Linked DNA regions of Homo sapiens. The protein of the gene in region 2 purifies or fractionates together with the protein of the main gene of each other region. This does not show direct contact. Each region holds a gene or a part of one and is shown on either strand. Other genes may lie near its edges.

The links. Proteins that work in one complex are often made in the same cells at the same time.
Region 1: the proteins of ZNF484 (region 2) and SMARCAD1 purify together in Homo sapiens (affinity purification with mass spectrometry; one large-scale study listed by BioGRID and IntAct). This does not show direct contact.

Annotation. Positions count from the first base shown.
Region 1 is NC_000004.12:94,214,123-94,218,650, reverse strand, and holds part of SMARCAD1 (SWI/SNF-related matrix-associated actin-dependent regulator of chromatin subfamily A containing DEAD/H box 1), read right to left. Parts: intron 1-4,528. UniProt on the Homo sapiens protein: DNA helicase that possesses intrinsic ATP-dependent nucleosome-remodeling activity and is both required for DNA repair and heterochromatin organization.
Region 2 is NC_000009.12:92,870,914-92,875,969, reverse strand, and holds part of ZNF484 (zinc finger protein 484), read left to right. Parts: intron 1-910; coding exon of another isoform or gene 911-940; coding exon 941-955; intron 956-3,202; exon of another isoform or gene 3,203-3,283; intron 3,284-5,056. UniProt on the Homo sapiens protein: May be involved in transcriptional regulation.

The sequences.
Region 1 (4,528 bases), on a different chromosome or scaffold from region 2:
ATTCTAAGACAAAATGAGGGAAAAAACCCCATTTCAAATTTAAGTCAAAAGAAAGGGTGAAACATAAAGGAGTCTGGGTGCGGTAATCCCAACACTTTGGGAGGCCAAGGCAGGTGGATCACTTGAGGTCAGGAGTTTGAGACCAGCCTGGGCAACATGGTGAAACCCTGTCTCCACCAAAAATACAAATATTAGCTGGGCGTCGTGATGCATGCCTGTGGTACCAGCTACTCAGGAGGCTGAGTCAGGAGGAGGTCCCAGCTACTCAGGAGCCCAGGAGGTGGGGGTTGCAGTGAGAGAGATCATGCCACTGCACTCCAGTCTGGGGGACAGAGTGACACTCTATCTCAAAAAAAAAATAAAATAAAACAATTAATTAATTAAAACATAAAGGAAAAGAAAGTCATGCAATTAACACTGAACAAGGCAAAAGCGTTAAACCTAAAGGAGGGACTTCTAAATAATAGACTTTATACCTACAATAAAAATATAACTGACATATCCCAACTCCATACTAATAATGAAATGCATAAAAATTGTAGGATATATAAGGCAAAGAGTCAAGAGACAAATATGAAGCATTAACTTTTCTCTATGCTCTTAATAAAGCAAGAGCACAAAAATAAACAAGATGTAGAACAGTGTTTTTCAAACATTTTTGACTGAAACCCACTGTGAGAGACATATTTCAGATTATGATACTAAGCACACAGATTGTTAGATTTGCAAGTGTAACTGAAAGAAAATGTGAGCAGCTCTTACTATAAGCAATACACTTTGATAATTTTCTATTTGTTCTACTCCATTAAAAATTGTAGTTATACATATTTAGTCAGGACCCAAGAAATTGATTTTATGACACAATAAATGTTTATGATCCAGTTTGAAAAACAAAGATATAATAAAACTCATCTATTATTCGACATATAATTAAATCTGTACTTAGATTATGTTTTCTTTCCAAGCACCCTTGAATTTTTACAGAAATTAAATATTAGGCCACAAAGAAAATCTGAGTTAATTTCCCCCAAAGAAGAAATACTACAGACCACATTCTCTGGTCACAAAACAGTGAAATTAGAAGTAAATGTTAACAAAAATATGCAAGCAAAATTTCTGCCAGTTGGAAATTTTTTAAAAAGAGACAAAACCTCATAAAAATGGCTTCTAAACAACTTTCAGGTCAAAGAGAAAACAACAACAACAAAAACACATCAAAATCTAGGATACATCATATATATGACACTATAAAAATTAAAATAATCTGGTAAATTAAGATTAGAGGAACAGATTAACAGACCCAAAGATGCAAACAAACATGGGAATTTTAGACTATAATGATGACATTTTAATGTAAGAAAAAGGATTTTTCAATAAATGAAAAACTGACTAGTAACTGGTGAATAATGAACAAAGGAGAAAACGATATCACCCTTTCTTTAGTCCCTATAATGAAATAAAATTCAGAGGAGATTTAAAGTTAAAAATCAACACGAAACCCAAAGTGAGATACAAACTCATGTCCATTATGTTGGCTATTATCAAAAACACAGGAAATAACAAGGTTGGAGAGGATGTGGAGAAACTGGAACCCACCACACTGTTGGCAGAAATGTAAAATGGTGGAGCACCTATGGAAAACGGTATGGAGGTTCCGCAAAAAATTAAAAATAGAATTACTATATGATCCAGCAATACCACTTCTGGGTATACAACCAAAAGAACTGAAAGCAGGGTTTCAAAGAGAATATTTACACATTCATGTTTACTGCAATACAATTCAAACAGCCAAGATGTGGAGGCAATCCAAGTGCCCATTGATGGATGAATGGATAAACAAAATGTGTATATACACACAGTGAAATATTATTCAGTCTTAAAAAGGAAGGAAATTCTGATATATGCTACAACATGGATGGATCCTGGGGATGTTATGCTAAGTGATGATTCCACTTTAATGAGATACTTAGAATAGTCAAATTCATAAAAAGACAACGTAAACGGTAGTTGCCGGGGGCTGGGGGAATCAGAAATGAGGAGTAGTTGTTCAATGCATAAAGAGTTTCAGTTTCACAAGATGAAAAGAGTGCTGGAGAATAGTTGCATGACAATGTATATGTATTGAACTGAATGTACTGAACTGTACACTTAAAAATGGTTGAGATGGTAAATTTTCTTATGTGTATTTTATCATAATTTTTAAAATTAACAGACATACTAGAGGAAAATATGAATGAGTATATTTATAGTGTGGTAATGCGGAATGCAGAAGACTTAGAGGAAAGGATGAACAAGGTGACCACATAAAAATCTAAAATTTTTCTATGGCAAACAACAAAGGGGGTGCTATGGTCTGTTTGTGCCCCACTCCCCAAAACGGTATGTTGAAATCTTAACCATTATGGTAATGGTATTAGGAGGTGACATTTGCTGGAGGGAGGAAGGGGTATTAGGTGATGGGGGCAGAGCACTCATGAATGGGATTAGTGCCCTTATAAAAGAGGCCCAAGAGACCCCTCACTCATTCAGCCACATGGGGTTAAAAGATTGTGGTCTAGGAATAGGGCCCTGAGATACCTAATCTTGCAGCACCTTGATTTTGGACTTCCCAGCCTCCAGAATTGCCAAGAGTAGATTTCTATTGCTTATAAGCTACCCGGTTCATGGTAGTTACAGCAGTTCTAACAGACTAAGACACGTGGAATTTAAGATATACTTACAAATAATTTATCGGAGAGACATGTATTAGAAAAACAGAAAAGCATAAAGAAACACAAAAAATCCAAATGGCTAGTAAATTTATGAAAACATACTTAAACTAAAAAATAAAGAAAAAGCAACAATAACATACTTTTGCCTATTAGCTTATTAAAGATAATAAAGGTCTGCAATATTTTAGACAGGTATGAAAAAGCAGACATCAAAACCAAGATGTAGTCTGATACAAACTAGTGAAATTTGTGTGTAGGGTGAAGTGACAATGACTAAAATAATATTTCTATCCCCCTCCTCCCCCCCACCCCCCTTTTTGGGACAGAATCTCACTCTGTTGCCCAGGCTGGAATGTAGTGTAGTGATCACAGCTTACCATAACCTCAAACTCCTGGGCTCAATCAATTCTTCTGTCTCAACCTCCCAAGTGGCTAGGACTACAGGTGCACACCACCACACCTGACTAATTTTTTCATTTTTTGTAGAGACAGGGTCTCACTACATTGCCCAAGCTGGTCTTGAACTCCTGGTCTCAAGCAATCCTCCTGCCTCGGCCTCCCAAAGTGCTGCGACTCTACAGGCATGAGCCACTGTGCCCAGCCAAATACATGCACATTTAAAATGCACTTAAGATTCCTACTTACTTTTGAGTACTTATTGTACTTTCTGTTACAACAATTCAGCACTAACCCTTTAACTAAGTATTGCTTTTCAATTAACATTAACAGACATTAAGAAACCACAATGACTATCTACAGGTTTAACGATGGCTCACATTTTGGCCACAGACACCTACAAAAAGACTGAGTATTGCGCAATGGTCACGGAATTATGAAGCTAAAATGATACATTCAGTATCATCATTCAAAGGATAATAACCATTTTAATGTGGGCAAGGAATACAGAAAACTAAGCAAAGCCAGGAGAAGACTGTAAGACCCAAACAGTTGACTTTTTACTCAAGATCATACAATCTGTATGTGGCAGAGCAATACTCTCAGGAAATCTTTCTGACGACTGGTATAGTTTTAAAAATGTCTCTCACTTATCAACAAGTGCTACTTTCAATATGACAACCACCTTGAAAAGGCAACCACTCTAGAGGACTAAATCTATTTCAGCAAAAAAAAAAAAATTCATCAAACATATACTAAAACTTTCCTCCATTCCGCCAATGCCAAAATAATCTATGAACCCATCTATTTTTATCTCCTTCAATTATCCCCCCCAGGGAAAATATGTCTTTATTCTTTTGCACAGTTAAACAGTCCAACTGTTCTTCAGTTCTCATCACTTGATGCCTCTCTTCAGATACCTCCCTCCCTCAGTCCTTCCCTCTCCACTAGCTTCTTGTCCTTGGTTAACAAACGCTTGGCCAGGTGCGGTGGCTCATGCCTGTAATCCCAGCACTTTAGGAGGCCGAGGCGGGCAGATCTCAAGTCAGGAGATTGAGACCATCCTGGCTAATACGGTGAAACCGGGTCTCTACTAAAAATACAAAAAAAAAAAATTAGCCCGGCGTGGTGGCGGGCACCTGTAGTCCCAGCTACTCAGGAGGCTGAAGCAGAAGAATGGCATGAACCCGAGAGCAGAGATTGCAGTGAGTTGAGATTGCGCCACTGCACTCCAGCCTGGGTGACAGAGTGAAACTGTCTCAAAAAAAAAAAAAAAAACAAAAGAACGCTCAATTTTCAATAATCCTGAAACATATTTTCTTGACATTACTTCCCAATCAGGTTACCTATTTCTCTCTTTCCTTTCCTGAATGAATAATCTCTATCTCATCACCATTCTACTGAAACTGTTAAAGGTTAGT
Region 2 (5,056 bases):
TGGTCTTTTAGATGCTATTTCCGACATCATTTAGCTTTCAGTACTGCAGATGAAGAGTTTTCTTATTTCCTTCATTTTTCCTCTGTAAATAGTCTGGTTTTTCACAATTAGATTTAGAAGTGTTTTCTATTTATAAATTTATTCTATACATGCAAGAATTTCCCCTGATTTGTTCATTGATTGAGTTCCTGTTTGTGTATGTGGAGGAGCTTATAGCCTAGTTGTGTCAGTGGTGGGAGATGTGTATGTGTGCTAAGGCCCCAGTGCAGAAACAGGTGTGCCTAGGATTGGGACTCTTGGGATGGCTGATGGAGATGCATGATCGGTAGTCATACAGGCATAGAGGCCAGTCATGGGGATGTGGGATTGATTGGTAGAGAGCCAGGACCATTAGGGTAGAGGAATTGAAGACTCTGTGATCAGGTATTGTAGGATGAGTGATGCAGGCCTGGCTCAGGGGCAGCAAGGCATGGAAATCAGTGAATCTGAGGTTTCAGTAATGGCTTCTGGGAGTAGTCTCTGGGCACCAATTGACACTTAGAGCAGATTGAAGAGTGGTAGTGAGGAGTTAGGTACCAGGGTTGATGATAACTTGAAGGGCCTGTGAAATCAGATAGTATAATAACGTAATAGAACAGTATATCCTTTGGATATTTTATAAAGTATTTAAGCAATCCACAATTATTGAATATCTAAACATTTCTAATCTTTCTTTTTTATTAACCATGTTATGGTAAAACTTTTGCACTTAAATCTTTGTACAATATGGGATGGGATGATATTTTAATGTGGTAGTTCCAGAAATAAATTTTTGAGTAAGGTGCAAGGGCACTAAATGATGTATGTGTCCATGTGTGACATTGGCACAGTTCCTTCTCTCATGGGTACCTCTACCCATCTGTTTTCTCAGATTTCTGCCCCTTTGTCCGAAGAGCCAAAAATGACCAAGTCCCTGGTGAGTTCTTATTTGTTCATCTGTTTATTTGTTGCTTTCTTTTACTTTTAGTGGATTTTAGGAGACATCTAACAATCCCTATAGTAAGATGACAAGACTAAATAAATAAAAACTAAGATCAGATAAAATGAAGAAGAGACTGTCAGCCCCAAGTCAAGTTTAGAATATATGGTCTTACACAGTCATGAACTTTGAACTGTTAAATTGTCTCTGATCTTCCTGAAAGACATAGCAATAATGGAAATTGGATACATGGTTTATATTAATAAAATTAACAAGTAATTTATTTCATCTGTAGTAAAGATGTCATGGTTCTTGATGTTTGAGGAATTTTTTGATAGATCTTCAGATGGTTAATGACAGAGCAGTCTTCAACAACAACCCTACTGAAAGTGCACTAACAGGCCAGGCGCGGTGGCTCACACCTGTAGTCCCAGCACTTTGGGAGGTCGAGGCAGGTGGATCACATGAGATCAGGAGTTCCAGACCAACCTGGCCAACAAGGTGAAACCCCGTCTGCACTAAAAATACAAAAATTAGCCAGGTGTGGTGGCGGGCGCCTGTAATCCCAGCTACCCAGGAGGCTGAGGCAGGAGAATTGCTTTAACCCAGGAGGCAGAGGTTGCAGTAAGCCGAGATTGCGCCTTTGCACTCCAGCCTGGGCAACAAGAGCGAAACTCTGTCTCAAAAAAAAAAAAAAAAAAGAAAGAAAGAAAGAACGTGCACTAACAGTTTTTCTGTTGCTGTCTTATAGAACAGTGCTTCTGACACTTTACTTGCATTTGAATTCAGATTCTGATTTAGTAGCTATGGGATGGGATATGAGAATTTTTATTTCTCACAAATTTCCACAGAACATCAATGCTCCTTGTCCAAGGACCACCTTCTGAAACAACCTTGAGGTTTTATCGTGAATGGGAGTTGAATTTTGTTAAATGCTATTTCTGTACCAATTGACATGATCATGTGATTTTACTTCTTGAGTCTGTTGGTATGGTAGATTACATTGATTGATTTTTTAATATTGAACCAGCGTTGCATCCATGGAATAAACTCCACTTGGTTGTGGTATATACTTTTTAAATTATTTGTATTTGCTAATATTTTGTTAAGGGTTTTTGTATCATATTTATGAAGGATATCGCTTTTTTTTTTCTTTCTGTCTCTCTTTCTGTTTTTTCTTTTGGTACTATTTCTGGTTTAGGTATCACGATAACCCTGACCTCATAAAATAAGTTGGAATGTGTTCCTTTGTATTGATTATTCTGCCAGAGATTGTGTATAGTTTGTGTTTTCTTTTTCTATACTTTGTCCAGTTTTTGTGTCAGGGAAATCATAGCCTCACACAATAAACTGGGAAGTATGCCCTTCTCTTCTGTTTTCTGGAAAAAACTGTGTAGAATTTATGTTAATTATGTTAATTCTTCAAATATTTGGTAGAATTCTCCAGAGAAACTGTCTGGGCCTAGAGATTTCTTTTTTGGAAGTTTTAAGATTACAAACTCAGTTTCTTTAAGTGTTACAGGGCTATTCACATTGTCTATTTAATATTGAGAGGGTTGTGGTAGTTTGTGTGTTTTTCAGGAACTGGTCCCTTTCATCTAAGTTGTCAAATTTATGTGTGCAGAGCTGTTAGTAGTTGTCTTAGTCAGCTCAGGCTGCCATAACAAAGTACCATAGACTGGGTGGAATAAACAACAAAAATTTATTTTCTCACAGTTCTGGGAGGCTGGAACTGAGAGATCAGGGTGCAAGTATGGTCAGGTTCTGATGAGGGTTCTCTTCTTGGCTTGTAGACGAAAACCAGATTCTCACTATGTGCTCACAGGCCATTCCCTAGTGACCGCCTGCCTGCCTGCCTGCCTGCCTATGGAGAGAGAATCTCTCTCTGTAAGGCCACCTGTCTTATCAGATTAGGACCCCTACCTTGTTTAACCGTAATTACCTCTTAAAAGCCCTATCTCCAAATACAGTTACATTAGGGGTTACAGCCTAAACATACGAATTTTTGGAGGACTGAGAATGTCTTGATTTCCACATTCTCCTGAAGGATATTTTTGCCTGATCCAAAATTCTAAGTTGATAGTTCTTTTGTTTTTTTTTTTAGCACTTGAAAAATGTGCTACTTCCTTCTGGCCTCCAAAGTTTCTGATGAGATATTAGTTAAAACTGCATGTTAATTTTCTATTGCTGCTGAAATAAATTCAAAAATTTAGTTGCTTAAAAATAACTTTTTTTTTTTTACAGTTCTATATTTTAGAAGGCCAACATGGGTCTCACTGAACTAAAACCAAGGTGTCAAGAGGGCAGTATTCCTTTCTACAGGCTGTAAGAAAGAATCTGTTTCTATTTTCTATGACTTTTCTAGCTTCTAGTGGGTGCCCACATTTCACAATTTGTAGCCCTTTCCTCCAACTTCAAAGCCATCAACATTGTATCTCTCTGACCACTCTTTTGTAGTCTCATCTTTCTCTGACTCTCTTTTATTGCCTCTCCTTTAACTTTTTTTTTTTTTTTTTTTTTTGAGGCAGAGATTTGCTCTTGTTGCCCAGGCTGGAGTGCAATGGCGCGATCTCGGCTCACCGCAACCTGAAAGAATCTGTTTCTATTTTCTGACTTTTCTAGCTTCTAGTGGGTGCTCACATTTCAGTTTGTGGCCCTTTCCTCCAACTTCAAAGCCATCAACATTGTATCTCTCTGACCACTCTTTTGTAGTCGCATCTTTCTCTGACTCTCTTTTATTGCCTCTGCTTTAACTTTTTTTTTTTTTTTTTTTTTTTTTTGAGGCAGAGATTTGCTCTTGTTGCCCAGGCTGTAGTGCAATGGCGCGATCTTGGCTCACTGCAACCTCCGCCTTCCGGGTTCCAGCGATTCTCCTGCCTCACCTTTCCGAGTAGCTGGTATTACAGGCATGTGCCACCACGCCCTGCTAATTTTGTATGTTTTAGTAGAGACGGGGTTTCTCCATGTTGGTCAGGCTGGTCTCAAACTCCCAACCTCAGGCGATCCGCCCGCATTGGCCCTCCCAAAGTATTGGGATTACAGGCATGAGCCACCGCGCCTGGCCCTCCTGCTTTAACTTTTAAGCAAATTTGTGATTATATTCAGCCCACCCAGATAATCTAAGATAATTAATCTTCCTATTTTAAGGACAGCCGATTTAGCCACCTAGATTTGATCTGAAACCTGAATTCCCTTTTGCCATGCAACCTAACATATTCACAATTTCTGGGAATTAGGATGTGAACATCTTTGGGGAGCCATGGTTCTTAGTATCTCACATTGTCATTCAAATTGTTTTTCTCCTGTGGGTAATGTGTAGTTTCTCTCTGAATGCTTTCAGCATTCTTTCTTTGTCTGTATTTTTCACAAGTTTCACTATAATTCTTCCTTAGTGTGAATTTCTTTGGTTTTATCCTTTTTGAGATTTGCCCAGCTTCTATCTGTAAGTGTATATCTTTCGGGAAGTTTCAGAAATTTTCATTCATTATTTCTTCAAATACTTGTTCAGCCCCCATCCCTTTCTCTTCTTTTTCTCTTTCTGGAACTCCAATGACACAAATGTTAGATTTTTTGTTATTGTCCCACATGTCTCTGAGGTTCTGTTCCTTTTTTTCTCAGTCTGTTTTCTCTCCATTCTTTAGATTAGATCATTTCTACTTTATTTTCAGGTACTCAGAATATTTCTTCTGTTGCCTCCATTCTTTTGAGCCCATCTATTGAGTTTTTAATATTGGTTATTTTTTAATTCTAAAATTTTCATTTGGTTTTTTCATCTCTTCTCTATTTCTTTGTTGAAGTTTTTTTGTTTCAAGTGTGTTCATATGCTTGTTAAAACATTTTTATGAGGACTACTTTAAAATCCTTATGAAATAATTCTGATAACATACATCACTTCAGTTTTAGTATCGGTTGATTGGTTGTTTCCTTATTCAAGTTGAGATTTTCCTGGTTCTTGGTTTTACAAATGATTTTGTAATGTATTGTGGAAACCTTGGGCATTATGAGACTCTAGATCTTATTTGAGTCCTCTTTTTTAGCAGGCGTCCTCTGGGCCAGTGTGGGAATTGGGGGGCCTTGCTGTACTACTGCCAGGTGGAT